Homo sapiens: one gene and its partners. The protein of the gene in region 1 purifies or fractionates together with the protein of each later gene. This does not show direct contact. Each region holds a gene or a part of one and is shown in the gene's direction. Other genes may lie near its edges. The genes, in order: SLCO6A1, SLC9A1, TTYH3 and LAPTM4B.

Region 1 (8,016 bases):
ATGGGATTTTCTTTTCTATCACATTGTCAGGCTGCAAATTTTCCAAACTTTTATGCTCTGTTTCCCTTTTAAAACTGAATGCCTTTAACAGCACCCAAGTCACCTCTTGAATGCTTTGCTGCTTAGAAATTTCTTCTGCCAGATACTCTAAATCATCTCTCTTAAGTTCAAAGTTCCACAAACCTCTAGGGCAGGGGCAAAATGTCACTACTCTCTTTGCTAAAACATAACAAGAGTCACCTTTGCTCTAGTCCCCAACAAGTTCTTCATCTCCATCTGAGAGCACCTCAGCCTGGATTTCATTGTCCATATCATTATCAGAATTTTTGTCAAAGCCATTCAACAAGTCTCTAGGGAGTTCCAAACTTTCCCATGTTTTCCTGTCTTCTTCTGAGCCCTCCAAACTGTTCCAACCTCTGCCTGTTACCCAGTTCCAAAGTTGCTTCCACATTTTCGGATACCTTTTCACCAGCGCCCCACTCTACTGGTACCAATTTACTGTATTAGTTTGTTTTCACACTGGTGATAAAGACATACTGAGACTGGGTAATTTACAAAAGAAAGAGGTTTAATGGACTTACAGTTCCACATGGCTGGGGAGGCCTCATAATCATGGCAGAATGTGAAAGGCACTTCTTACGGGGTGGTGGCAAGAGAGAATGAGAGAAGCAAAAGCAGAACCCTTATAAAACCATTAGATCTTGTGAGACTTATTCACTACTATGAGAACAGTAAGGGGGAAACTGCCTCACCAGGTCCCTCCCATGACACATGAGAATTCAAGATGAGATTTGGGTGGGGACACAGCCAAACCATATCATGTTTATTTCAATGTTTACACATTTCTTAATTGTAAGATTCCAGGCCTCCCAGTTTCTTCTGACTGTCTCTGTTTCCATAAGGTCTCAGGTAGGGAACCATTTCTGGGGATCTAAATATTATTCCACTTTTGATTCTAGCTCTCTCCCCATCAGGGTAATTTGTTGTCCCTGAAGCTACTTCATGAAGCTTTACAACTTATTGTCACAGCACTTGATTTTCTTCCTAAGTGTCTTAAACATTACCTCTAATGGGCCAGGTTTGGTGGCTCACACCTCTAATCCCAGCACTTTGGGAGACCAAGGCAGGCGGATCACAAGTTCAGGAGATTGAGACCATCCTGGCTAACATTATGAAACCCTGTCTCTACTAAAAATACAAAACAAAAACAAAAACAAAAACAAAAAACAAGTCAGGTGTGGTGGCACGCACCTGTAGTCCCAGCTACTCAGGAGGCTGAGGCAAGAGAATCACTTGAACCCAGGAGACAGAGGTTCCAGTGAGCCGAGATTGGGCCATTGCACCCCAGCCTTGGTGACAGAGTGTGACTCTATCTCAAAAAAAAAGAAAGGAAAAGAAAAATACCTCTAATGTACCTCACAACAAACATCAACTTAGTCTGCTATGCCTCCTGCAAACATTATTACTTATCTGAATTCTACCAGTTCATTACAGATAATCTGAAATGTTGCCATCTCTTTACAGCCTTTTGTGAAAACATTTGCTGATAGGTTTTCCCCCTCAATTGGTAAATCTCTACTCACCAATGAGGGTCTGACTTGTAGGGAGGTATATATAACAGTAGTTACTTTTTAATATGGTGGCTCATTATTCTAATAATTTGAAACATAATTATCTTTGTTTAAGCATATGCCAAAAATGAGCTAGATACTTTTAATATATTGCTTCTAATCTTCACAGTAATTTTTCAAATGGGATAATTATTATCCTCATTTTACAAATGAAGAATTAAGGGTCAGAATGTTTAAAAGACTTACCCCAAATCACATATCAACTAAGCAAAGTCTATACTTTATTCATTACATATAATGCTTCTTTCTTTCATGTCCCCACCCGTTTCCTCCAGTTGCCTTTGTTTTCTTCTGGACTTAAAAAATTATGTAGCATTTTACTTATCTAGCAGTTAGACTTCTAATCTCAGTAAACTGAAAAGATTCACAGAAAGCAAAAAGTAAAATAAAAAGTCTGTAGTTATCAAGAAAAATAGTACTTATAGCACCCAGATATCTAACATTAGTTTCAACATAGGACCTGTAAATCTTATATTGTGAAGGAAAGATGTAACAAGCGTCACTGCAATATTATAGGTGGTAGCATATTAGAAATTGTAGCAAAATGTCACTACTGTCTATCAGGGAGGAAGTAAAAATCATTTACCAGGAAAGCAAAGCAAATGAGAAACCATTTACTAAAAGAGAAAACAGTTCTATATCTCTTAATAGTTGAGGTCATCTTATATTAAGCTACATTATTATAATTTGCACCATCATGCGGTTTATCTACTTCATAGGCTCATTTGCTAAAAGGATTATATGAATTATCATCAATATGTTACTTTAGTGAGTAGTTCTTCCTACATGTTTAGAGCATTTAGCGGAAATAGATATTACATAGAGAATATAAAAGAGCACCTCATAAACATTCATTGTTTAATTTAAGCTGGTTTCTTGAATATCTTAAGCACTTGGATTGCTGAACTCATCAGGGAATGCTTTAGTTGGTAGCTATATTTCATTGCCTGTATCGAAATTTTATACTATAATTACTTGCTAACTTTTAGGAAACATGTAATTAATATGCATACATTTTAAGATTCAAAGATAATTTTTTTCACATTTAATATTTCTGGAATTGAGATAGTTTTATAACTCTGATCGACATCATCTATAAAAAGATTTTTAAAATCAGTGATCTGTCTCAGGAAAATACATACAACCATGTTAATTTCAGTATGGTCAGAGCAAAAATTGAAAAACAATCCAATACCCATCAATATAAAAGAAAGTGGTTAAATAAATTATAGTAAATCCATACCATGAAATTCTATCATGCATGGTACTATCATAAAGGTAGCCAAAATGAATTAAGTGTGATGTTTTCTAAGGTTAAATGAGCAAGGTAAACAAATATCCACAATTTCTACTTAAATACTTAGAGTACAATTTTTGTAGCTGGATGACAGTGTCCTACATTATGTAATAAAAATATGCTGATCAAAGAATGTTGAAGGTATGTTTGTCAGTGTTTCCATTCCACCCTTAGCTTTCAGCAGGTCCTGTATGCTTGCACCACAGGTAGGGTTTCCCTCTGCTCTCTTGACTCACCTATATTGGTGGAGTGCTGTTTTTTCACTCATGCAAAACTCCTCATCGAGGCAGAAGCTAGGTTGTCCCTGGTCCAGCCTCAATTTTGGACATGCCCTGAATGCCTGAACCTCAAGTTCGGGCTTTGCCTTGTTTCAGTGGGGTTCTTGGGAAGAAATGAAGTTCCTGCTCCTCTCTTTTTGGCAAACTGTTTTATTTCTATCCCTCTCTCTGGTGGCAGTCAATCTTAAGGTAGGCCATAGACAGGATGGTTTGCTGCTCCTCCTTCAGTGGGTTTTTTCTTCTGTAACAGATAACCTTTGTCACAGACTGGAGGGCATGAGAGTTTCCTGCCTCAATCCCAGAGGCAAAACTGCTTTTGCTTTGGATAGCAGAAGGGTCAGTGGAGGTAGGAGGGAAAGTATTCCTTCTTCTTTCTCAGGGACAGTCTACCACGACCAAATCTTTTCCCTTAAACAAAGATCTGGTAAACGGGTATAGACTCCCCTTATTTCTTAGGCTTCTAGGGTTTCTAAACTGTTAAGCTTCCCTTGGCCTTTAAGAATTCATTAAAATTTCAAGTGTTTCTATCTTCCTTTATGACTGCTTTTTCTTCTTTCTGTGCTCTTTGAAAAGTAAAATGGTTTGTGTGTCCCATCCTTTTTCTGAAGGGCTTATTGTCCTTTAGAATCAATTTGCCTAGTTTCTTTACAGCAGCCATAGCTATAGAAATGTAGCTCTCTGATAAAAAAAGTATTTTTTCATACTATCCAGCTTTGTTGTTGTTGTTATTATTGGAGTGGGGGTTACATTTTATTTGGCTTTCTACATTCTGGGTAGAAGTAAAATTCCCAGTACCATTCATTTTTAATGGAGTTGTCTTTTCCGCTCTGCACCCAAGCAGTACCTATTCTGGTTTTGAAGCACAAGAATAAGAGCCCACCACTCCCCACTGTCTTTCCTACCTCCTAGGATTCCTGTGGATTTTTTTTTTTTTTTACATTTATTATCATGAAGCAGTGTAGAGTCGAAATCAGGCTTCAGGTCAGTGGTTCTTAATTCTTCTTTCCCTGGTCTACCAGGCCAGCACTATTGGAGCAGCACAAAATCTTGTTGAAGAGCTAAATTGTTTTTGGCAACACAATGTCTAATCCATAGGAGAGAAGATAGTGCCATCTCTCCTGGAAAGTCACCCTCCACATATACATGGCCTAAAGAGCTTATATATCAGCCTAAGAAAAGAAAACCAATAAGAAGTTGCATTTTCATTAAAAAAAGAAAGCCACGTTTCATATCCTACTACTCTTCGCTTACATTCTTTCTCTTCAATAAAGTTTTTATACCTGAAAAAATAATCCTCTGGTTCTCGTGCCCTCATTTAAGGTGGAAAATGATAATCTTTTCTGTTCTTGAGTTGGGATAGAGTTTGTAGGGCAATAATTTCTATGTGTAAAACACTTCACTTAAGGACATTCAGTCGGACATTGATTTCTGATTTTTGTGCGTCCAAATCTTTTACTGTGGTGAAACTGTTTTTGTTGTTGTTGTTGTTGTTGTTGTTTTAATGTCTTCTGCTCTCTCCTGGTCCTTCAACAATTTTCAGGTTGTTTCTAGTGAGATTTTTCAGTTGGAAAGCCACCATAATAAAGTAAGTCTGGGGAAACTGGGGACGGACAGTTCCACTTTTTTTTTTTTTCCATGCTTCTGGTGCTCTTTGTCTGTGTTAGCAGTTATCAAAATCTAGTTTTAGCTTTTTTTTTTCCTTCCGCACGTGGAAGAAAAGAAGGAAAACAGCTTTGGAAGTTCTCAACCGTCAACCCCCGGGAGGACGTTTGCCTCCTGCCCTAGGAGAAACGTTCGCTCTGGAGGCTTGGGCGGCAAGAGCCCCTTGTGGCCACCGAGTCCTCCGACGCCCTCGCCAGGCTGGCCTTTGGGTTGGCCCAGGCAGGACGGGCAGCCGAGAGCACTCGGGCCGCGTCGCCAGGAGCCGCCCAGGGTGAGCCATGTTCGTAGGCGTCGCCCGGCACTCTGGGAGCCAGGATGAAGTCTCAAGGGGAGTAGAGCCGCTGGAGGCCGCGCGGGCCCAGCCTGCTAAGGACAGGAGGGCCAAGGGAACCCCGAAGTCCTCGAAGCCCGGGAAAAAACACCGGTATCTGAGACTACTTCCAGAGGCCTTGATAAGGTTCGGCGGTTTCCGAAAAAGGAAAAAAGCCAAGTCCTCAGTTTCCAAGAAGCCGGGAGAAGTGGATGACAGTTTGGAGCAGCCCTGTGGTTTGGGCTGCTTAGTCAGCACCTGCTGTGAGTGTTGCAATAACATTCGCTGCTTCATGATTTTCTACTGCATCCTGCTCATATGTCAAGGTGAGCCTGAAGGAGGCGGTTTGTTGTGGCGAGGGCAGCTGGGGCCGCACTGGCGGAGGCGGGAGAGGGAGTATGGCGGAGGACGCCCTGGGGTGGCCCAGCATGCCCTGGGGTGGCCCAGCCTGAGGCTGCTTTCTGACTTCTCAAGGCGTTGTCGGATCAAAGTTTAGCCACCCAGTGGGTTTACCTTGCCCGCTGCCTAGACAGAGAAGATTTATCAAGGAAGGGGAATTGCCATGGAGAAAGAGTAAGGCACGCAGAGCCGGCTGTGCGGGAGACCAGAGTTTTTTTATTGCTCAAATCAGTCTCTCCAGCATTCTGGGATGGGATCAGAGTTTTTAAAGATAATTTGGCTGGCAGGGGCTCGGGAACTGGGGAGTGCTGATTGGTCAGGTTGGTCAGGGAATCATAGTGTGGTTGAAGTCAGGTTTTCTTGCCATCTTCTGTTCCTGGGTGGGATGGCAGAACTAGTTGACCCAGATTACTTGTCTGGGTGGTGTCAGCTCAACCATCCAGTGAAGGGTCTGCAAAATATCTCAAGCACCGAGCTTCGGTTTTACAATAATGATGTTTTCCCCAGGAGCAATTTGCGGAGGTTCAGACTCTTGGCGCCAGAGGCTGCATGACCCCTAACCTTAATTTCTAATCTTGTAGATAATTTGTTAGTCCTGCAAAGGCAGATTAGTCCCCAGGCAACAAGGGGATCTTTTCAGAAAAGAGCTATTATCAATTTTGTTTCAGAGTCAAACTGTGAAATGAATTCCTTCCCAAAGTTAGTTCGGCCTAAGCCCAGGAATGAACAAGGAGTTTAAAGGTTAGAAGCAAGAAGGAGTGGATTAGGTCCAATCTGTTTCACTGTCATAATTTCCTCATTTATAATTTTTGCAAAGGTAGTTTCAAAAACAGGTTAACCGGCTGGCACGAACTTGGGTGCCTCACCTCCTCCAGAACCTGACTGGCACAGTCCATCCTACACATTGTGGGTGATGAGGGCCTGGCTTCCAGATAGCCAGCTGCAGAGAGGATATTGTTGAGTCATTTATCGTTGTTTGGTCACCAACTCTGAGAAGTTCTGGGTTGAATCACCTGGAGTTTAAAATAAAGTTGAAAACGGTGTCTATGATCATTAAATGGTTTCTGATCCTGCTCACAAATTTGCGACATTCTGGCTCAGCCACTCTCTATTGGATCTTTTTTCCTCATCTATGAATTTATACAAGAGAATCTAAACTTGAGGTTGTTATTTTTGCCCACATATTTTGAAGAAGGTGAATTTGAACACTTTAGACCTGGCATGCCTCTCTACTTGACCACAGCTCTCACCTCCCCTATTACATCAAGATTCTTTACTAGCCTCTTTTCAATGATGGCATTGGAATTTGACAAACCTGTTCTCTTTTTTGCTCTAAGATGCTAGGTCTAAATAAGTGCAATCAAAAGGCTGTATGTTGTAAGACCCATACTAGAAAAACTAATAAATTGTCATCGAGTTTGTCTTGAGATTATCAAAGAAGTTTCTTAGAAGAACAAGCATTTGAACTATGCCTTTATAGTAGGTACAGTTTTGAAAGCCAGAATGAAATTAAAGAGTATTTGTTGAATAGGGAAGCGAGTTAATGAATCGTGTTTTGTTTTAGAAAGGCTTGTTTCACAATAGTGAATGACAAGTTTGGCTGGATAATGGTTTCATCTAGGCACCATAAGGGGGTAATTATATTTATATTATCCATCATGTCTCCTTAGTGACTGAGGTATAGAAGACACTCAGTAAATATGTATTCGATGCATGAATGAATTTTAAAAGAAAGGAAAAGACAGATTATGCCTAGATTATGAAGGCCTTTAAATACCAGACATAATTCTGAAAGGATATAAAAGGTACTTACTTCCCACTATGTTGGGTCATGAGTAAGGTGCTTTGCAAGTATTATCTAGTTTAGTGTAATCCCCTTATTAGGTGGGTAATGAGGAGCCATTGAAGGTTTCTGAACAAGTGATGGACAGTATATGGTTTTTAGCTCTGTATCTTAACTGACTTCATACAGGTAGTTAGCTCAGTTTGGGTATAATATTGAGTCTTCCATTCATAAAAATGGTATCTCTCTTCATTTTTCTATTTGTCAATTGATCTATTTATTATTTTTACATTGTAAACAATTTTAAAATCATTTCAAACATAAAGAAGGGATACAAAGGCAGTACAAACAATACCTGCTTCCTGTGAGTCAACCAGATTCTTCATCTGTTAACATTTTACCACATTTGTTCCTTCGCCTTCTCTTTCCCTATACATGCCCAGTTTTTCAGACATGGTGCACCACTACTGCTAACTACTCCAGTGTGCAACTTCCCAAAGTGAGACACTCTCTTACATAACCATCGTTCCTCACAGGCAGGAATATCAGTACAATACTATCATCCAATTATGAACTGGTGGTCCCATCCAGATGTTGCCAGCTGTCTCAATATTGTCTCCTTTTCATTTTGGGGCCAAAATTCTATACAGGAACAT
Region 2 (4,845 bases), on another chromosome or scaffold:
AAGTCTCTGCCCCCCATCAGCCCCTTCTCCCTGTGCCAGTGCCCAGGGGCTCCCTCTGCCCCAGGAGGCCGCCAGGGTCTAGCCATAGGAAGGTGTGGTGTGAGCAGCTGGGAGCCTGAGGAGGGGGCATCATGCCATCTCTGCCTCCATTTGAAACCTATCCCAGGCATAGGTCCCAGGTGGGATTAGAGAAGGGGGCTCAGCCGGACACAGGCAAGGCTTCGAGATACCCAGAGTCAGGGCCGCTGGGTTCGATGAGTGGAGTGTGGGCGCCACCTCCTGGCTGCTCATGGAACCACAGGGCTGGACCCAGCAGGGCTGCAGCTACGGGAGGGAGTGGGGCTAGTCAGAGGTCTTGGTAGGGAAGGCGCCCCACAGCGAGGCTTGACTTGGCCCTGGGCCCCTTTCAGTTCCTGGACCACCTTCTGACAGGCATCGAAGACATCTGTGGCCACTACGGTCACCACCACTGGAAGGACAAGTAGGTGGCAGGCCTGGTGGGCAGGCAGGGAGGGGCAGGCAAGGGTCTCCTGGGCCTGGGCATCTCCCCACTCCTGGAAGCTGGCGCCATCCGTCTCCCTCCTCCTCCCACCAGGCTCAACCGGTTTAATAAGAAATATGTGAAGAAGTGTCTGATAGCTGGCGAGCGCTCCAAGGAGCCCCAGCTCATTGCCTTCTACCACAAGATGGAGATGAAGCAGGCCATCGAGCTGGTGGAGAGCGGGGGCATGGGCAAGATCCCCTCTGCCGTCTCCACCGTCTCCATGCAGTGAGTGCTGGGGCAACCAGGCAGCTTCTGCTCCCACACACCGGCCCCTCAAGCCCGGTTGGAGGTGGCCACCTGGGGGGCGGGGTCTTCTGTTGTCCTGTTGGGGCGGACAAGAGAGCTGTGGGCTCGCACCAAGGACCTGAGGCTTTGGCGCCCACCTGGGTCATCCCTAGGGTGACTTCCTTCTGGCCAAACCTGGGAGGCACCAGGATCCCAAGAATCTTGGGGACCTAACCGATGCCCTATTGCCCCAGGAACATCCACCCCAAGTCCCTGCCTTCCGAGCGCATCCTGCCAGCACTGTCCAAGGACAAGGAGGAGGAGATCCGCAAAATCCTGAGGAACAACTTGCAGAAGACCAGGCAGCGGGTGAGGGCCTGCTCCCCAGCCCGACCCCCAGGGTACAGGAGCCCTTCAGCCCCTCTCTACGGCAGCCCTGCCCTGCCCGTGCCCCTCGGCACCCACCCCAGGACTGGCCCGGCCTCCAGCACTGCCCCCACCCCTCCATGAGCAGAGCCTTCCGGGGCCCGCACTGCCCTGACGCTGTCCCTCCCACAGCTGCGGTCCTACAACAGACACACGCTGGTGGCAGACCCCTACGAGGAAGCCTGGAACCAGATGCTGCTCCGGAGGCAGAAGGCCCGGCAGCTGGAGCAGAAGGTAGCCTCTGCCTTCCTCTGGGAATCTGTATCCCACCCCACTCGCCCAAGCTCCGCCACAGCCTCTAAGGAAATGTACCCATTCTAGGAACAGGGTTTGGCTTTCGAGGGGCTTTTAGCAGTGTAAGGGCATGGAGAGCCATGAGTTCTAAGCAAGGGATTGGCGTGGGGTTGTGGGGCATGGCCTGGGTTAGGGCAGTGGCAGGGGACAGAGGAATGGGTGGATTTAAGGCTGAGCAGTGTAGGTGTATTCAGGGAGGCTGTGACAGGAGCCTGGGATGAGCCCTTAGGAGCTCCTGAGGGGCCAGTACGGGTGCCCACACAGGCACAAGGGAGGGGGAGCAAGCGCCCTGCATATACGAAAGGTGGGGTGTGCACTGGCCGGGTTCTGTCCTGAGGGGCTCCCTCTGCCCAGCTGCCTGTGCTCACCCCGTCTGTCCTCTCTGTCAGATCAACAACTACCTGACGGTGCCAGCCCACAAGCTGGACTCACCCACCATGTCTCGGGCCCGCATCGGCTCAGGTAAGGGCCTGGCGAGGGGCCTCAGGACTGGGCACTCTGAGCTGCCACCTCCTGAGGATGGGGCTCCACAGGAACAGTCCTCAGCCACTGGGAGGACAGGCCTGGCCCTCGCTGACCTCAGGATCCCCTCCCAAGCCATGAGCTGCTTCTACGTCAGGGGCCATCCCTAGGGAGAGAGACGTTCCGGGCGAGGACTGTGTGGGGAGCTGGGAGAGCCACGGTGCCTGGCAGGAAGGCAGGGTATCTGCCCCATCGAGACCCCCAACACGTGTGGGGAACGTGAGGGCAGGGCCCCAGGGCAGACTGACTCAGGGAGGAGCCCCAGGCCTTGGCCTGTGGAGGGACACCTCTGGGAGCCCCTGTCAAAGGAGAGGGCCACAGTCTGAGGAAGAGAAGCTGTGGGGTGGAAGGTCGCAGAGGCCTGCTTCTGAGGCCTGTTGGGACCGGGACGGCTGTGCTCATGAGAAGGCCTGAAGGAGGCACTGACGCGGCCGAGTGGCACGTGCTGGGCCGGGCTCCAGAGCGGAACCCAGCTTGTGCCTTGCTCTTGGTCCCCAGACCCACTGGCCTATGAGCCGAAGGAGGACCTGCCTGTCATCACCATCGACCCGGCTTCCCCGCAGTCACCCGAGTCTGTGGACCTGGTGAATGAAGAGCTGAAGGGCAAAGTCTTAGGGTTGAGCCGGGATCCTGCAAAGGTGGCTGAGGAGGACGAGGACGACGATGGGGGCATCATGATGCGGAGCAAGGAGACTTCGTCCCCAGGAACCGACGATGTCTTCACCCCCGCGCCCAGTGACAGCCCCAGCTCCCAGAGGATACAGCGCTGCCTCAGTGACCCAGGCCCACACCCTGAGCCTGGGGAGGGAGAACCGTTCTTCCCCAAGGGGCAGTAACACCAGGGCCAGCAGGCAGCGCCTGTCCCCTCACAGACTCTTCCACCAGAGCAGGGGCTGCTGGGGGCTCCCCTTGCCCTTCCTGACCCGGATTGGCCCTGCCCCTCCCCCTACCGCATGGCAGCTGGGCCCACAGCCCCCACCCCAGCACAGCTCCTCCCCTGCCGCCTCCCGGGAAGCATCCTCCCCACCAGAGCTGCCTCCCCAATCCATTTGGCAGAACTGCTGGGGCTGGTGAGGCCGGCCCTGCCCCTCCCTAGATCCAGGCTTCTCCCGGACCTGGACTAGGGCCTCGGAGGCTCCTCCCTCTGCCTCATCCTCCTCCTCATTCAGACCAATCTTAGTTTCTAACCAAAGAGTCTCTGGCTCAGCTGTGGTCCCACCCAGGAAGGGAGGGAGCTGAGGCCTCCCTTGAGTAGGCCCTGCTTTATCAGGGGACAAACCAGGGGTACCAGGCACATGGCTGGGGGAGGGACTGCTGACCCACCAAGGTCTCACACTCCTCCTGCCAGCTCTGTCACCCTGGCCACCACCCAACCTGTCCTTACTCAGAGCTGCGGGCTGAGGGCATCTCTGAGTGTCTCTGCCTGGAGCAGGGGTGGTTTCTACGGTGACAGTGACGTGACTCAGAGCTTTTCGAACTGTGCTCCCACGGGGACCACTGGGCCCCTCAGGGGAAGCTGCTAGGGGAAGGACTGGCCGTGGCTCCAGAATGTGCTGCCTTTTTAAGTTTTGTTTGTTCACACTCCTATATATGATTGTTTGCACAGAGGGCGCTCCTGTTTTTAAAACATTTTGAAAACCCCTGGCTGAACAGTGCTCTGCCTCTAACTCCCTCCTCACACTCCAGAATTACCCTTCCTCATCTGTGCCTGTCTGTCCAACCCCTCCCCCACGTCTCTCTGCCTGCTGGGCTCTTAACTGTTGCTCGAAGACTGTGACATCAGAAGTAACTCCCACTCCTAATCAAGAGTCTCTCCAGCCTCACAGATGCTGGCCTCTTGGCACCTGCCTAGCTCTTGGGCCTGACCTCCAGTCCTGCTGGCCTGCTCTTACTTCCCCCACCCTGGGTTTGGCCCCTGGAACCTTTCCCTTGTGTGTACCACACCCTGCCTGCTGTGGAGCCCATTGTGGAGGCGGTGGGGGGGAGAAGGCCTCCCCTGAGGATCCCCTGTCCCCTGGGGCTGGTGGATTGGGCAGAATCCTGGGCCCCCAGAGACCTTTGCCCACACACACTCCTTCCCCTTGTCCCTGGGGCACTCCCCCAGGATTGTGCAATAGTCAGAGTGTCCCTTTTTGCAGGGGACTGGGCCATGGGTCCTCGGCCCATCTGTCCATCCTCCTCTCCATGCAAGTGCTGTTTGGGCAGGAGTCACCATGCAAGGGTGACATCGACAACCACGTACCAAGCCACCGCAGCTGCTGCCACTCTGCTGCCTGTACAGAAGAAACTGAATCTTTTTCATATTCTAATAAATCAATGTGAGTTTTTAATAGAGTCAAGGGCTGCTTTCTGGGGACGAGGGTCTTTAGGAGGGAGGGTGGCCTGAGGGCGTGAAGTACTTAGTTCAAAGGCTGGCACAGAAACACTTCATGGCTGTCAGCTGCTGGGGTGGTTGTTCCCACATGCCAGGCACTGAGATACCACAATGAGCTAAGCAGGACGTGCCCTGCCCCGCGGGGGAGAGCGGCACTAACCAGTGCCCAGTGTTTGTGCAAGAGGTGAAAAAGAGGCAGAGGGGAGGGAGGGACGGCGAGGAGGACCCTCCTGAGTCCCGAGTGAGTGAGATCCCAGGAGGGGACTGAAGAAGGAGCCAAGGCTTCCGGGTGGAAAAGGACCCAGAAAGTTCCCAAACATTGTAACTGGGAGCTGTGCCCACGAACACTGGGACCTGAGAAAAGGCCGGGTGGCTGGGTCAGAGTGACAGGGGAGGCAAGGATGGGGCCGCGTGCTCCATGGTTAAGATTTTGCTCTTAACCGTGGGAAGACCAAAAGGG
Region 3 (7,028 bases), on another chromosome or scaffold:
AGATTATGGGCTGGAGGGAGACCTGGGGGCTTCCCAGATGGGGCGAGGCTGGCTCGAGGTCCCCCGTCCAAATGAAGTGCTGACCATCTGCGGTGCGTGCCCCCCAGGACCCCCTCCTCCGCGTCCAGGAGGTGCTGAATGGCACGGAGGTGAACCTGCAGCACCTCACCGCCCTGGTGGACTGCCGCAGCCTGCATCTGGTGAGAGGCAGGGCCTGGGACAGGGCCATGGCAGCTTGTAGGGTGGGAACAGGGGAGCAGCTGTTCGGGAGGATGGGGACCCTCAGCAGACAGTGGGTCCTCAGCCCTGCCTCTGGGGGGCGGTCCAGGCCGCCGTGGCTGGGCTGAAGGTCTCACGCTGCCCCCTCCACCCTCCCTGTCTCTGGATCCTGCCATCTCATCCCACGGCCTCAGGACTACGTGCAAGCGCTGACCGGCTTCTGCTATGACGGCGTGGAGGGCCTCATCTACCTGGCCCTCTTCTCCTTCGTCACAGCCCTCATGTTCAGCTCCATCGTCTGCAGCGTCCCGCACACCTGGCAGCAAAAGAGGTGAGGGGCCCTGGGGGGTCGCAGGAGCTTGCCCCAGGCCACATGGCATGCGGGACACTTCAGGGGCATGCCTTTATGGACACCCATGTGCCAGTCCCAGAGGTGAGGGACAGACACCTCCTCACCTCGTGACCCTCCCTAGGCCTCTCTAGTGTCTCTGAGGCTGCCGGTTCCCAGGTGAGCATCATCATTTCACAGGAGGAAAACAGCCTGGAGGAGCTCCCGGCCTGGGTTGCAGGAGTCCAGAGCAGACAGTGGGGAGGACTGGGGTCTCTTGCCTCCCCAGACTGGCTCTGTGCCCTATGCCCTGAGAGCTGGCCTCAGACTGTCTACTCTGTACCGCCTCCCAGGCAGGTGTCCCCCACCATGGGGTGCAGGTGCACGACGCTGTGGGGGAAAGGTTGGTGGTCCACTGTGCAGGCTTAGCTCTGCCAGGGGTAGTCCAGGTAGCTGTGGCCTCCAGCTAAGTGACCAGGATAGAAGCCAGCTCCCCTGGAGCCACTATGTCCTTACCTTTGAAGTGGGGGTCCTGGTGGCCCCTGCCTGAGTCTTCCCATTCAGTACTGGTTTGAGTGGTGTATTGGGGTGACAGGCTCCTTCCCTTGCCAGAGCTCCTATGGCTTATCTTTGAGACCTTCACCTCCTCTCCCACTTGGACTGTGGCTGCTGCTTGGTGGCCCAATATGGATGGCAGGTAGCTCAGCTCAGATTTCTTCCTTTTGTCTGGATTTCTATTATTTTCCTTTGTGATGGTGATGGTGATGCTGCCAACGATGATGGTGATGGTGATGGTGGTAATGATGGTGATGGTGATGGTGGTGATGATGGTGATGGTGGTGGTGATGGTGATGATGGTGATGATGGTGGTGGTGGTTGTGGTGGTGGTGATGGTGATGGTGATGGTGATGTCATTGTTGATGTTGGTGATGGTGATGGCATTGGTGATGTCGGTGATGGTGGTGGTGATGGTGTCAGTGGTAACAAAGATGGTAGACATAGGGGAGTAGATAAGAGCATAGCCCTGGACCCACAGGGCTAGATTCAGATTCTGTCTCTATCCTTGCTTATTGTATGATGTGGGCAAGTCACTTAACCACCCTGGGCCTCAATTTCCCTCATTGTAAGAGGACACAGCTGGAGTGTCGAGTGGGCACTTGAGCCACTGCACGTGAGGGGCTTGGCTGGTGGCCCCTGCGCAGCCAAAAGCTACCACTGTCCTGTTTCTGAAGTGCTTGCTGCCAGGCAGCCCACCCTGTGTCCCATGTGGGACCTCCTGGGGCGTGGAGGCTCCAAAGTGCCAGAGGCTCGCGCAGAGTGGAAGACAGAAAGCCAGAGGGCAGCAGGGCTAGGAAAACTGGCTCAGGCCACCCAAGGGTGCAGTTGGATCCTGCAGAGCCAAGAGGCACCCCAGCCTCCTGTGCCTTCAAGAGGCACCCTGGCCTCCTGCACTCTCCCAGGAGGGGCCCTGCACTCTTCTTTCAGTAAGCAGCCAGCCAGCCTTGCCATGCACAGGCCGCAGTACAGGGCCTGGCACTCGGGTGACCACACAGGTCTCATAGCACCCCACCTCGCAAGGGCAGGGCTGGATGCAGAGCCAGGTGACCTGCCCACAGTCCCACATGGAGTGTGCACACGGCCGAGCCAGAACTGGAACCAGGAGTGTCTGTCTGCACCAGAACTGACCCCCATGGGTCTGTGGCCAGCTCCTTCCTGCTGGGGCCTGAGCCCGTGCTGCGTGTCCCTCCTCACAGAGGCCCTGATGAGGACGGGGAGGAGGAGGCCGCTCCAGGGCCGCGGCAGGCGCACGACAGCCTCTACCGCGTCCACATGCCCAGCCTGTACAGCTGTGGCAGCAGCTACGGCAGTGAGACCAGCATCCCGGCCGCGGCCCACACCGTCAGCAACGCCCCGGTCACTGAGTACATGTGAGTTGACGTGGGCCTAGTGGGGCCAGCGGACACGTCAGCTGCGGCTGAGAGCGCGGATCTGGGCTGGGGCTAGCTCGAGGCAAGGGGCTGGAGAAGGGGCGGCCTCCGGGCTGGGCAGCCCTGGCCTTGAGTGCCTCCTGCCCCAGGTGAACACGGTCCAGGGGCCATGGAGAGGCCACATGGTCACATGGAGGTTCCGTGTCCAGGGCACAAGGACTCTGTGGCCAAGGACCTCAGGGCCCAGCTACATGGTGAACAGGTGGCTCGGAGGGAGTGGACTCTGGCTGGGCCAAGGTGGGCAGGGGTCTCTCTGTGGGCCCTCTCTGAGCCCTTTGTTACTGTGCTGGGTTCGTGGGACCCCCAGTGAGAATGGATGTGCCCATCTGGGCACAGCGGGCCTACCCATGGGCCCCCCGACCTGCAGCTGGGACTGCATGGCCAGCAGGCACTCACAGCCTCTCTCCCCTCATGCCTCAGGAGCCAGAACGCTAATTTCCAGAACCCCCGCTGTGAGAACACCCCACTCATTGGGCGCGAGTCCCCGCCGCCCTCAGTAAGTCTTGGGGCAGGAGGGTGGATGGGGGGCTGCTCAGCCTTGGGGGTCCGCTGTTCCACTGCGTCGGTGGGCTGGTGTGGCATGTGCAGCCAGTGTGAGCTCTGGGGGCAGCTGTGAGCTGCCACCACCGGGGTCCCAGGTGACCCTTCCCAGCTGGGACCTCTCTGCAGGACGCCTGACCTGAGTTGACGGGGCTGGGTGGGACTGCCAGCTCCTCCCCGCTGGCCTTGGAGTGTCCTGGGGCCAGAGTGGGCAGCCTCGGGACCAGCCGCCCAGGGGGTCAGCTCTCAGGCCCTTTCCTGGGGAAGGAGAGTGGGTGGGCGGGCAGATGTGGCCCCACTGTGGCCCTCCCAGCTTGTAGGCACGGCCCTGCACCAGGCCCTCCCTGGCCTCTTACCTGCCATTCTCTGTGCCTTCTGGACCTGTGGGGTGCCACCGCTCCAGTTCCCAGGGGCCCCGGCCCTGCCTCCTTTTCTTTTTCTTCCTTGAGTCTTTTCCTGAGTGTCCACACATGGCTGTTTCAGCCCAGGCCTGGTGTCCCCTTTGACTTCCCGCGTAAGACACAGGCAGGAGGGGACAGGGTGCCGAAGAGAAGGAGTTGGTGGCGAAGCTGGGGGACCGGGGAGGGGGCGGCCGGGCTACCAGGACAGGGCTTGGGAGGCCGAAGGCTGCCTTGCTCAGAAATCCCCATCCCGGGGCCACTGTCATGGTCCCCTGTAGCACAGAGCTGGGCCTGGGGGGCCTGGGAGGGGCCGGGCCTGTGAGGTTCAGGCCACACAGGTGCAGGCCCAGTCCCGCTCGGCTGCCCTCGTCCTCGCCATCACACGGCCCACAGCCCACTCCTGGCCCCACACCCTGGCGTTGAGGCCACACTCTCTCTCTCTCTCTCTCTTGCACCCCACCCACCCCGGGCCCTCCTAGCGCTATCTGGCTGCCCTGGACTCTGGCAGCCACGCGGGCTGGCAGTTTAAGCCCATGGACAGTGCCCGAACGCTGTGGTAGCTGTTCCCTCAGAGCGACAGGTACTGACCCACCGGTCCCCCATCCCGCACGGCCACCCGCCTGCGCCTCCCGCCTCCACCCTGCACTCACTGCCGCCCTCCCGTCGGCACTGAGCTGGGGCTCCATCTGTCCGGCTCCTGTTGGCAGGGCCAGCTCTGAGTGCCACGGCTCAGCCAGAGACTTCTAATGCCGGCTCTGGGCCCGCCAGCCTCACAGTGGGGTTGGCAAGTCCCCTTCCAGGCTCCCCCTGCCCAGTTGCTTGGCCTCTGGGGACTCTGCCACAGCTCCAAGTGGCCCCAGCCCCTTCTGTCACCTCCCAGTGAGGAATCCATGCACCCAGACCCCTGTATGTGCCCGGGCCCCTGGGCATGTGGCCAGCAGGCCCTGCCCTGGAGGCACCAACTGCGTGTCAGGGGCGTGCACACGGACAGGCACGTGCCGGCGAGCACGTGAGCTTCTCCCGCTGGCCCCACGGTGGTGCGGGTGCCTGCTTGGGCTCCTTCAGGGGTCTGCGCGTCTGCCCCGTCCCGTCCAGTCCCGCCCCGTCCCGCCCCCATCCCCTCCCCTTGTGCTGCATGTCAGTGGAATGACGAGGCTCCGGGCCGTGGCTCCTCCCCCCACCCCCTCCGTGGCGTCCCCACAGGCTGCTCGAAACCTTCTTGGTGTCCCAGGAGGGCCCTCGGGGACCCGGGGAGCTCTGTGCCTCTGAGTCTGGGGACTATGGGGATGGGCCTGGGGCCCTGGGGTTCTGAAGCCCTCCTGGGATGGGAGCCAGCCTGCCAGGTCTCCTCACTGCCGCCGGCCCCTGACACGTGCCAGGCCTGTGGGTCCTTTGGCCTCAGCACATGCCTCGCACATGTGGGTTTCTCTGTGAGCACACACATGCATTCTCTTGCACACACACGTGCACTCAAGACCTTCACACTCCTGCCTGGACGAGGGCACCCACGAGGTGCAGGCCAGCTGCAGAGCCAGGCACAGGACAGCGCCCCCTGCAGCCGCCTCTGTTCCTAAGTCCAAGACCCCCAGGAGCCCACAGTTGGGTCCCCCACGGGAGGGGGGGCTGCATTGCTCCAGCCTCCTGTGTGGCTTAAGGGGCCCTCCTTCCATGGCGTGAAGGGGCAGAGTAGCCCGGGGGATGTCCTCAGGCTGGGGCCTCCGTACTCCTGCATGCTGTGGCCTGGCTGTAGGTGGACCCGGCCCTGAGCCCGGAGGAGGCCTTGGCCCGGCCCTGGAGGGTGGCTGGTTTGTGTCCTTCAGGTCCTGGGTGCGTAAGGTGCAGGTAGGGCCTTGGAGCTGTGGCTCCTGGGGGTGGCAGAACTCTGCCTGGCCCAATGCCCAAATGCCGCTGGTGTGGGCATGGGAGGCTGTGTGTACGCCCCTCCTCAGAGGAGACATCCCCTGTCCTGAGCCTGGAGAGTTCGGGGGCTGCCCCTCCCTCAGCCTCAGCCAGACCTAGAGCGCAGGGGCCCCCAGCCAGCGGCCCCTCCTTAGCCCCTCCCTATAGGCTCTGTCAGGGCACCCTGTACTGTCCCATTCTGCCCCCAGGGCTGTTGGCTCAGCCAAGTGAGGACCACGCGGAAGGCGCCCCTGGCTGCGTGCGCCATGCAGGGGCCCTGCTGATGCCTCCCCCTTGTCTCCCTCCAGTACACCTCCAGCATGAGAGCCAAATACCTCGCCACGAGCCAGCCTCGCCCTGACTCCAGCGGCAGCCACTAGACCGCGCCCGGCAGCCACCCACCCCACGTGCCAACTTCCCCTCCCCGTGCCAGCACTGCCGCTTCCACCTGGGCCACCCACCGGACCCTCGCACGCCGTGCCAGGCCTGCCCCAGACGCGTCTGCAGGCCGCTTGCCCTCCTGTCCCCTCCCCGCAGGGGCACAGTGGAGACGCAGGGGCTCTGGGCCCGTACCGCCAACTCGGGTCACACCTGAACGCTGCTGCCAGCCGATGCCCCAGCCCTGCACGCCACCCACTATCCCGGCACGCTCCCTCTGCAGATGGTCGCCGCACCTACAAGCCCTGGCCGCACCCAACCTGTGTTGTTGCCGCCCGGCCCTTCCCTCCACAGCTCTCCTTCCTCCCGCCCGGCACTTCTGTGGACCCCTTCTTAGTTCACAGGCACGGCTGGGGCCGCTCTGTGCTGGCGCCTGCTGGCCACTGAGGGACAGGGACACGTGCCACCTGCTCATCTCTGCCCTGAGGTCACCCCGTGGTCCCTCCACGTGCCCATCTCTCTGCAGTGCCCTCCTCGCCTGTGCAGCCCGCCCACCCACAGGCTCACCCCTCCTGCCGGCTGCCAGAGGCCCCCTCCAGCAGGGCCTCTCTCCGTTGCCCCAGCTTCACTCTCTCCCTCAGCACCTGCCCTGCTGGAGGCCCCAGCCCTCCGTGGACAGCAGGGGCCACGTGGAGCCCGGGCCGCTCACCCGCCACCCAGTGCTGGCCGCCTTCTTGGTGCCAAACCCCCTTCCCCCACCCAGAGACTGGGCAGCTGTGTCTGGTTCGTTCTTTGCACTAACCACATTTGTCATCTCTAGGGCAGGCTGGGGCTGCGGGCTGAGGGGGACCGCTGGCACCCCCCTTCCCTCCCTTCTTGGTTCCATTTCCATCCATGACAGGTACAGCATCCCAGGAGCCCGGCCTGAGGGGCTGGACCCGAGCCGGCTGTGAACATCCCTCAGCCCCTGCTGTCCCCCCTTGGGACTAACCACTAACCTCACCCCCAAACTCCACGGGTGCCCCTAGCTGGCCCAGAGCCGGCAGTGTGAGCCCAAGTCCGGGCTGGAGCCGAGGCCGGAGCAGCTGTCTGGGAGTCAAGGCTGCAGTAGCGTTTCTTCATGGGGTGCTCCAGGGGGTGCCACAGACCGACAGGCAGCCCAAGGGCCTGGACACCCCTCCCCAGGCAGGTGCTGCCCCAGGAGGACTGTCCTCGGGAATGAACCTCCCGCGGGCTTTGGACTGAGGTCCCTGTGGCCTCGGTCTCCTCCCCATG
Region 4 (7,028 bases), on another chromosome or scaffold:
CGAGGCCTCTTCACCACCTGGCCCCATCCTACATTTTTGGTTCTATCCTCTAACATTTCCTTTTATACCCCCTGACCCTGGCGTTCCAGCCACATTGAACTTGCTGTCTTGAGGAGATGTCCTTGTCTCAGTGGCATTGCTCATACTTGGAATTGTTCTTTTCCACACCTCTCAGGCTCCAAATCTTCATCTTTTGAGTTCCTGTTCAAATGCTCCCATCTCTGTTGCAGGTCCCTGCAACCCCTGACTGTAACTCTCCTTAACTTCCATGATTCTTTCTCGGAGCTCTTGTCACATTCATTGCTTTATGCTTTTTGTTTTTTGGGTACATGATGTATTTAACTTCATGTTCTGAGTCCTAGGGAGTTCTTCCTAAGCACTTAGCAAATATGTGTTGTAGGCAATTAGTAGCTATATATGATCAGTAGACTCCACGGGGGAATAATAAGCGGATTAAGAGTTGACAGGTCCCTAGGGACTGAGAGTGCGGGGAAAGCACAGGCGTAAAGCAGGTGTCTTAACACTGGCTTTAGAAGATCTAGAAAACTAGTAACCAAGAGCTTTTAACATGGTTCTTGTTAAGATGTGAAGAGGTAAGATAACTAATTTGAGTGGCTATTGTATGCCAGTCACCGGTCTAGGTATTTTATGTATATTCACTCATTTGAACTCTGGCCAGATGACATTCTTCCCTTCTGTAATATTACCCCTTGACCTCTTTTTTTTTTTTTTTTTTTTTTTTTTTGGAGATGGAGTTTTCGCTTTTGTTGCCCAGGCTAGAGTGCAACGATGCAATCTCGGCTCACGGTAACCTCCGCCTCCCGGGTTCAAGCAATTCTCCTGCCTCAGCTTCCGGAGTAGCTGGGATTACAGGCATGCACCACCATGCCCGGCTAATTTTGTATTTTTAGTGGAGACGGGGTTTCTTCATGTTGGTCAGGCTCATCTTAAACTCCTGACTTATGGTGATCTGCCCGCCTTGGCCTCCCAAAGTGCTAGGATTACAGGCATGAGCCACTGTGCCCAGCCCCGTTGACTTCTTGTTACACTTAGAATAAAATACAAAGTCAGGTGGTGGCTCGCGCATTTAATCCCAGGACTTCGGGAGGCCGGGGCAGGAGGATCACTTGAGCCTGAGAGTTCAAGACCAGTCTGGGCAACATAGTGACACACCCCATCTCTAATTAAAAAAAACAAAACAAGACTCCATAAGTAGCCCTACGGGACCCCAGACTCACACTGTACGACTTCCTCACCTTTCCATCTTCTCTGACCAGCTCCTTACCTCTGCTCCCTCCTCTAAAGCTTTTTGCCCATGAATCCCAAATTTATGTTTTTTCATTTCAGCTTTAAAACCCTACCCTGTTATGATAACAATAATGGAGTACATTGCCCTTGTGTGGTTCTTCATACTTTTTTTTTTTTTTTTGAGATGGAGTTTCGCTCTTGTTGCCCAGGCTGGAGTGCAATGGTGCCATCTCAGCTCACTGCCATCTCCGCCCCCCACTGGGTTCAAGCGATTCTCCTGCCTTGGCCTCCGGAGCAGCTGGGATTACAGGCACACACTAACATGTCCAGCTAATTTTTCTATTTTTAGCAGAGATGGGGTTTCACCACGTTGGCCAAACTGGTCTCAAACTCCTGACCTCAGGTGATCCATCTGCCTCGGCCTCCTAAAGTGCTAGGATTACAGGCCACCATGCCCAGCTCTTCATAATTTTTCAAAGCACATTCTTCTTATTTCGTTTGATCCTATTTCAGTCCACAATTTTCCACATACCTTTTCTCAAAAATAAGAGTATAGAAGAGTTGGGTGCAGTGGCTCACACCTGTAATCCCAGCACTTTGGGAGTCTGAGGCAGGCGGATCACTTGAGACCAGCCTGGCTAATATGGTGAAACGCTGTCTCTAATAAAAATACAAAAAATTAGCCAGGTGTGGTGGCAGGTGTCTGTAATCGCAGCTACAGGCTCCTACTGAGGCGGGAGAATCACTTGAACCTGGGTGGTGGAGGTTGCGGTGAGCCGAGCTTGCGCCACTGCACTCCAGCCTGGGCGACAGTGCGAAACTCCATCTCAAAAAAAAAAAAAAAAAAGTATAGAGGGATTGAAATGCCAAGAAAACTTGACAGTTTATCAAATAACATCTTTGCCATAAATCTTAATGCCAGTTGTGGGACTGGCCTGTGGCTCCTTTAAGCCTTGGAGTTGTAACAGAAAGTTTTCTTCAGATAGTTTTGTTAATCACACTGTTTAAAATGTGCTATGAAATTTCTTGGATCTTTGGAGAGAAACAAGATACTGTTATAATAATTACTGTGGAGATGTCACTGGAAAGGGGATCCAGACCCCAAGAGAGGGTTCTTGGACCTCGTGCAAGAAATAATTCAGATTGAGTCCATAGAGTAAAGTGAGTGTAAGTTTATTAAGTAAAGAAACAAAAGAATGGTTACTCCATAGGCAGAGCAGTAGCTTGGACTGCTCGACTGATAATACTATAATTATTTATTCATTATATGCTAAACAAGGGGTGGATTATTCATGAGTTTTCCAGGAAAGGGGTGGGCAATTCCCGGAAATGAGAGTTCCTCCCCATTTCAGGCCATATAGGGTAACTACCTGACGTTGCCATGGCATTTGTAAATTGTCATGGCGCTGGTGGGAGTGTCTTTTAGCATGCATGCTAATGTATTATAACTAGTGCATAATGAGAAATAAGGACAGCCAGAGCTCACTTTTGTCACCATCTTGGTTTTGATGGGTTTTGGCCGGCGTCTTTACCATCACCTGTTTTATCGGCATGGTCTTTGCGACCTGTACCTTGCACCGACCTCCTATCTCATCCTGTGACTTAGAAGGCCTAACCTCCTGGAAGTGCAGCCCAGTGGGTCTTAGCCACATTTTACCAAGCCCCTGTTCATAATGGAGTCGCTTTGGTTCAGATGCCTTTGACGGAGAAGGTAACTTTTCACTATATATTCTTTGTACAGTTCAGGTGTTTGGTTAAACACATGCTTGTAGTATCTGTTTAAATTAGTTATATGTATATGTATACTCTGGGAAGTGGCTCTTCTCATTATTACAATTTTTTTCGAAAAGCAATCAGCTTTTATTTGACAATTTGGAAAATACAGGAAGAAAAAAAGTTATTCCGGCCAGGCACGGTGCCTCACGCCTATAATCCTAGCACTTTGGGAGGCCGAGGCGGGTGGATCACGAGATCAGGAGTTCAAGACCAGCCTGACCAAGACGGTGAAACCCCATCTCTACTAAAAATACAAAAATTAGCCGGGTGTGGTGGCAGGCACTTGTAACCCCAGCTACTCGAGAGGCTGAGGCAGGAGAATCGCTTGAACCTGGCAGGTGGAGGTTGTAGTGAGCCGAGATCGTGCCACTACACTCCAGCCTGGGTGACAGAGTGAGACTCCGTCTCAAAAAAAAAAGAAAAAAAGTTACTTCGAATCCTACAATAATCCTGAAATAACCAATTGGGATTGTCATTTAAAAATGAACTTTTTTTTTTCTTCCCCTGAGACAGGGTCTCACTCTTTCACCCAGGCTGGAGGGCAGTGGCACGATCTCAGCTCACTGGAACCTCTGCCTCCCTGGTTGAAGTGATTCTCCTGCCTCAGCCTCCTGAATAGCTGGGATTACAGGCATCCACCACCATGCCCAACTAATTTGCATTTTAAGAAATAGGGTTTCACCATGTTGGCCAGGCTGGTCTCGAACTCCTAATCTCAAGTAATCCACCCACCTTGGCTTCCCAAAGTGGTGGGATTACAGGTGTGAGCCACCGTGCCGGGCCAAAAATAAACTCTTGAATGGATGTTCTGTAAAACATTTACACTTCCTTTAAACAGGTATTTCCAAGTATGTGGATTTTTGTTTATTTGGTTTTGAGGGAAGGTCTTACTATGTTGCTCAGGTTGGAGTGCAGTGGCGCATCAGCTCACTGTAGCCTCAAACTCCTGGGCTCAGGCGATCCTCCCACCTCAGCCTCCTGAGTAGCTGGGACTACAGGCATGCACCACTGTGCCTGGCTCATTTTCTTGTTTGTTGAGATGGGGTCTCACTGTGTTGCCCAGGCTTGTCTTGAACTCCTGGGCTCAACTGATCTTCCCACCTCAGCCTCCCAAAGTGCTGGGATTACAGACATGAGCCACTGTGTTCAACCCAAATATGATTTTTGTGGTAGGATATGCCATTAGTTAGTGTTGTTAGTAAGAGGCTTTTCTCTGTGTATCTTCACTCCATTTGAGAAGAGTAAAACATAGAACTGTGCCATAAGTTTCTGAACTTAGAATAGTAAAGAAGTAACAAGCCAGTCTTGGCCTGGCCCAGTGATGCGCACCTGTAGGCCCAGCTACTTGGAAGGCAGAGGTGGGAGGATTGCTTGAGCCCAGGAGTTTGAGGCCAGCCTGGGCAATATAGACACCTTGTCTCTCAGCAGACAACAACCCAGTCTTAGCTGGTGCCTCACTTAAACTCTGCAATCCTTGCTACCCCAGCCCCATCAAAGTTAATATGTGTGTGTATTGTCCAGCAGTGACAGGAAGAATAAAGGAAATAGAAATGAAGAGGTAGAATGATCAGGATTTTGCAGTTGGTTGAGTGTGCAGGATAAAGATGGTAAACTCAGATGATCAAGTTTCGTATATGGACAGGAGACTTGTAGAGGTTAGGTTTTGGAACCTAAATTCCTGGATTCAAATCCCATCTCTACAGCTTGGTAGTTGTTTGTTCCTGGGCAGTGTTTTTTAACCTCTGAGCCTCAGTTTGCTATGTATAACATGGGAATAATTTAGTACCCACTTCGTTAGGTTATTGCAGGGCTTAAGAGAGATTCCACATAAAGCACTTAGCATAGTGCCTGAATGTTTTTCATTAATTATTAATAGCGAGGCCATTTTTTAAATTAGAGAACAAATAAGGAGGGCAGAAGTGGGAGATGTTAAAGAAGGTGATTGTCATTTAGAGGAGCTGAGTTTAAAGTAGCCAAGGGCAGTACTCAGAAGACAGGACTACTGGCCTGGCCTGGCCTGGCCTGGCCTGGAAAGGGTTATTGCAGAAGGATGATCCTGGATCCACTATGTAGCTTTGCATTCATTCTCTGAAACTGCTTCCTAGATGGCTTCAAAGCTCTCAAAGCTCCACTAGTTTGAACCTGTAAAATGTTTGATTAACTGAGACAACTTGGGTTGCTTACCTTTAGCTCTAGAGTGTAGCTGACTCACTGGAAAGTTTTTGTGCTTTTTCAACCACTGGCGCCAGGGCTGATGCCTGTGTTTGTGTGTGTTGTTCACTGCTCTATGGTGCCTGGGCCAGGGGGAATGAGGTAAAATCCTGCTGTTGTCTTCACTCCAAGCCTTGTGCACTTGGCTGCAACTGAATGGGCTGGCAGCATTTCTGCCTTGGGAATGTTTATCTGCTCCCTCCATGGGTGGGGCTTAGTGTTGAGAGTCAAGCCACTGAAGAAGTTGCCTGTGGCCAGCCTGACTCCATGTGGTCAGTGTAATTTTCTATTATAAGGATTGCATCCTGGGGTTACTTAAATTCTTTTTTTTTTTTTTTTTTCTTGTTGCAGATCATCAATGCTGTGGTACTGTTGATTTTATTGAGTGCCCTGGCTGATCCGGATCAGTATAACTTTTCAAGTTCTGAACTGGGAGGTGACTTTGAGTTCATGGATGATGCCAGTAAGTAGTAGATATTTGGGTATTTTCAAGGGCAGGGAATCTGACTGCCAGCACTTCCTATTAAATTACAAATATAGACTCGTGAGTTCATTTGAGCTGATATATAACTTGTCATTGCAAATCAACGAATATTTGTGTGCGTCTAACATTCTGTCTTCTAGGTGCAAGAGTCTAAATAAGATCTATTTTCATCTTATGTTAACTTACCCACTTAAAAATGATTGCATTATCATAGACTTTCTACCCTGGGCCTTTTGGCCTTTTTTGAGAGGAAGGGGTATAAATGCCAGGAAGGAAGGTGAAAAGGCTTGTGCTTATCTCCTTGTGTCTTCTATTATGTTTCAGTATTTATTTTTATTCTAGGAGTGATCCTTTTCCATTCTAGAAATGATGTTGCAGATTATTTGGGGGAATTTAGGGCCTTTTCCCAGTGAATGGAAATATGTACAGGGATGTGGATGTGGGGTAAGCAGGGAGGAAGCTAGGCTCCCAGCTTGAAGATCACTGCAGCCTCATCATTTTATAATCATTATGCCGAGTCCATGCCAAAGGAGAGGAGTAGTGCTGTGCATAATCTCCAGCAGAAGATAGTACAGATTTATTTCTCATTGGCTTCGGAGAACTTCAAGTGAGTTTTTCTTAAAAAGTGTTGGAGCAAAGTAAGAGAGGAGAGAGTGGCTCAACATGCAGTTTTAGAGATCGGAAGCATTCGAAAGACATGGTGAGGGCTCTTTGTTTCTCCAAGTAAGAAAAAGCTGTTCAGTGGTTTTAACTAAATGCATGAACTGATATATGCATTTAAGATCCCTTTTGCTGCTGAGTAGGGTACTGGGTGTGTGAGCACAGAGCCTGGGAGAGTGGTATTGGGGATACCACCTAGGCTGCACTGGGGATAGAGAACAGGGAAGGATTTGGCAACTTGCTGTTTTGGGCAGCGAAGGAGACGGAGGAATCAAAGATGACTTCTGCTTTCCAGTTTTAGGAGATGACCTGCATCTTAACTGAGCTGAGAAAGTCCGGAGTCAGGAGGTGGGAACAGACCTGGGGGAGAAAAATAGACTTTAATTTCAGTAACTAGCTGAGCACAGTTGTTTGGAATTGATATGGTTTGGCTGTGTCCCCACCCAAATCTCGAATTGTATCTCCTAGAATTCCCCTGTATTGTGGGAGGGACCCAGGGGGAGGTAATTGAATTGTGGGAGCTGCTCTTTCCCTTGCTATTCTTGTGATAGTGAGTAAGTCTCATGAGATTGAGGCCGAGGCTGGCAGATCAGCTGAGGCCAGGAGTTCGAGACCAGCCTGGCCAAGGTGACAATACCTCATCTCTACT

Evidence for each region.
Region 2: the proteins of SLCO6A1 (region 1) and SLC9A1 purify together in Homo sapiens (affinity purification with mass spectrometry; 2 studies listed by BioGRID and IntAct, with this or other methods). This does not show direct contact.
Region 3: the proteins of SLCO6A1 (region 1) and TTYH3 purify together in Homo sapiens (affinity purification with mass spectrometry; 2 studies listed by BioGRID and IntAct, with this or other methods). This does not show direct contact.
Region 4: the proteins of SLCO6A1 (region 1) and LAPTM4B purify together in Homo sapiens (affinity purification with mass spectrometry; 2 studies listed by BioGRID and IntAct, with this or other methods). This does not show direct contact.

The regions. Positions count from the first base shown.
Region 1 is NC_000005.10:102,495,975-102,503,990, reverse strand, and holds the start of SLCO6A1 (solute carrier organic anion transporter family member 6A1), read left to right. Parts: upstream 1-4,989; 5' UTR 4,990-5,146; coding exon 5,147-5,504; intron 5,505-8,016.
Region 2 is NC_000001.11:27,098,309-27,103,153, reverse strand, and holds the end of SLC9A1 (sodium/hydrogen exchanger 1), read left to right. Parts: intron 1-410; coding exon 411-481; intron 482-595; coding exon 596-769; intron 770-1,023; coding exon 1,024-1,138; intron 1,139-1,327; coding exon 1,328-1,429; intron 1,430-1,878; coding exon 1,879-1,951; intron 1,952-2,509; coding exon 2,510-2,847; 3' UTR 2,848-4,345; downstream 4,346-4,845. UniProt on the Homo sapiens protein: Electroneutral Na(+) /H(+) antiporter that extrudes Na(+) in exchange for external protons driven by the inward sodium ion chemical gradient, protecting cells from acidification that occurs from metabolism.
Region 3 is NC_000007.14:2,655,985-2,663,012, forward strand, and holds part of TTYH3 (protein tweety homolog 3), read left to right. Parts: intron 1-107; coding exon 108-200; intron 201-413; coding exon 414-550; intron 551-2,301; coding exon 2,302-2,475; intron 2,476-2,955; coding exon 2,956-3,031; intron 3,032-5,683; coding exon 5,684-5,755; 3' UTR 5,756-7,028. UniProt on the Homo sapiens protein: Calcium-independent, swelling-dependent volume-regulated anion channel (VRAC-swell) which plays a pivotal role in the process of regulatory volume decrease (RVD) in the brain through the efflux of anions like chloride and organic osmolytes like glutamate.
Region 4 is NC_000008.11:97,799,767-97,806,794, forward strand, and holds part of LAPTM4B (lysosomal-associated transmembrane protein 4B), read left to right. Parts: intron 1-5,586; coding exon 5,587-5,698; intron 5,699-7,028. UniProt on the Homo sapiens protein: Required for optimal lysosomal function. Blocks EGF-stimulated EGFR intraluminal sorting and degradation.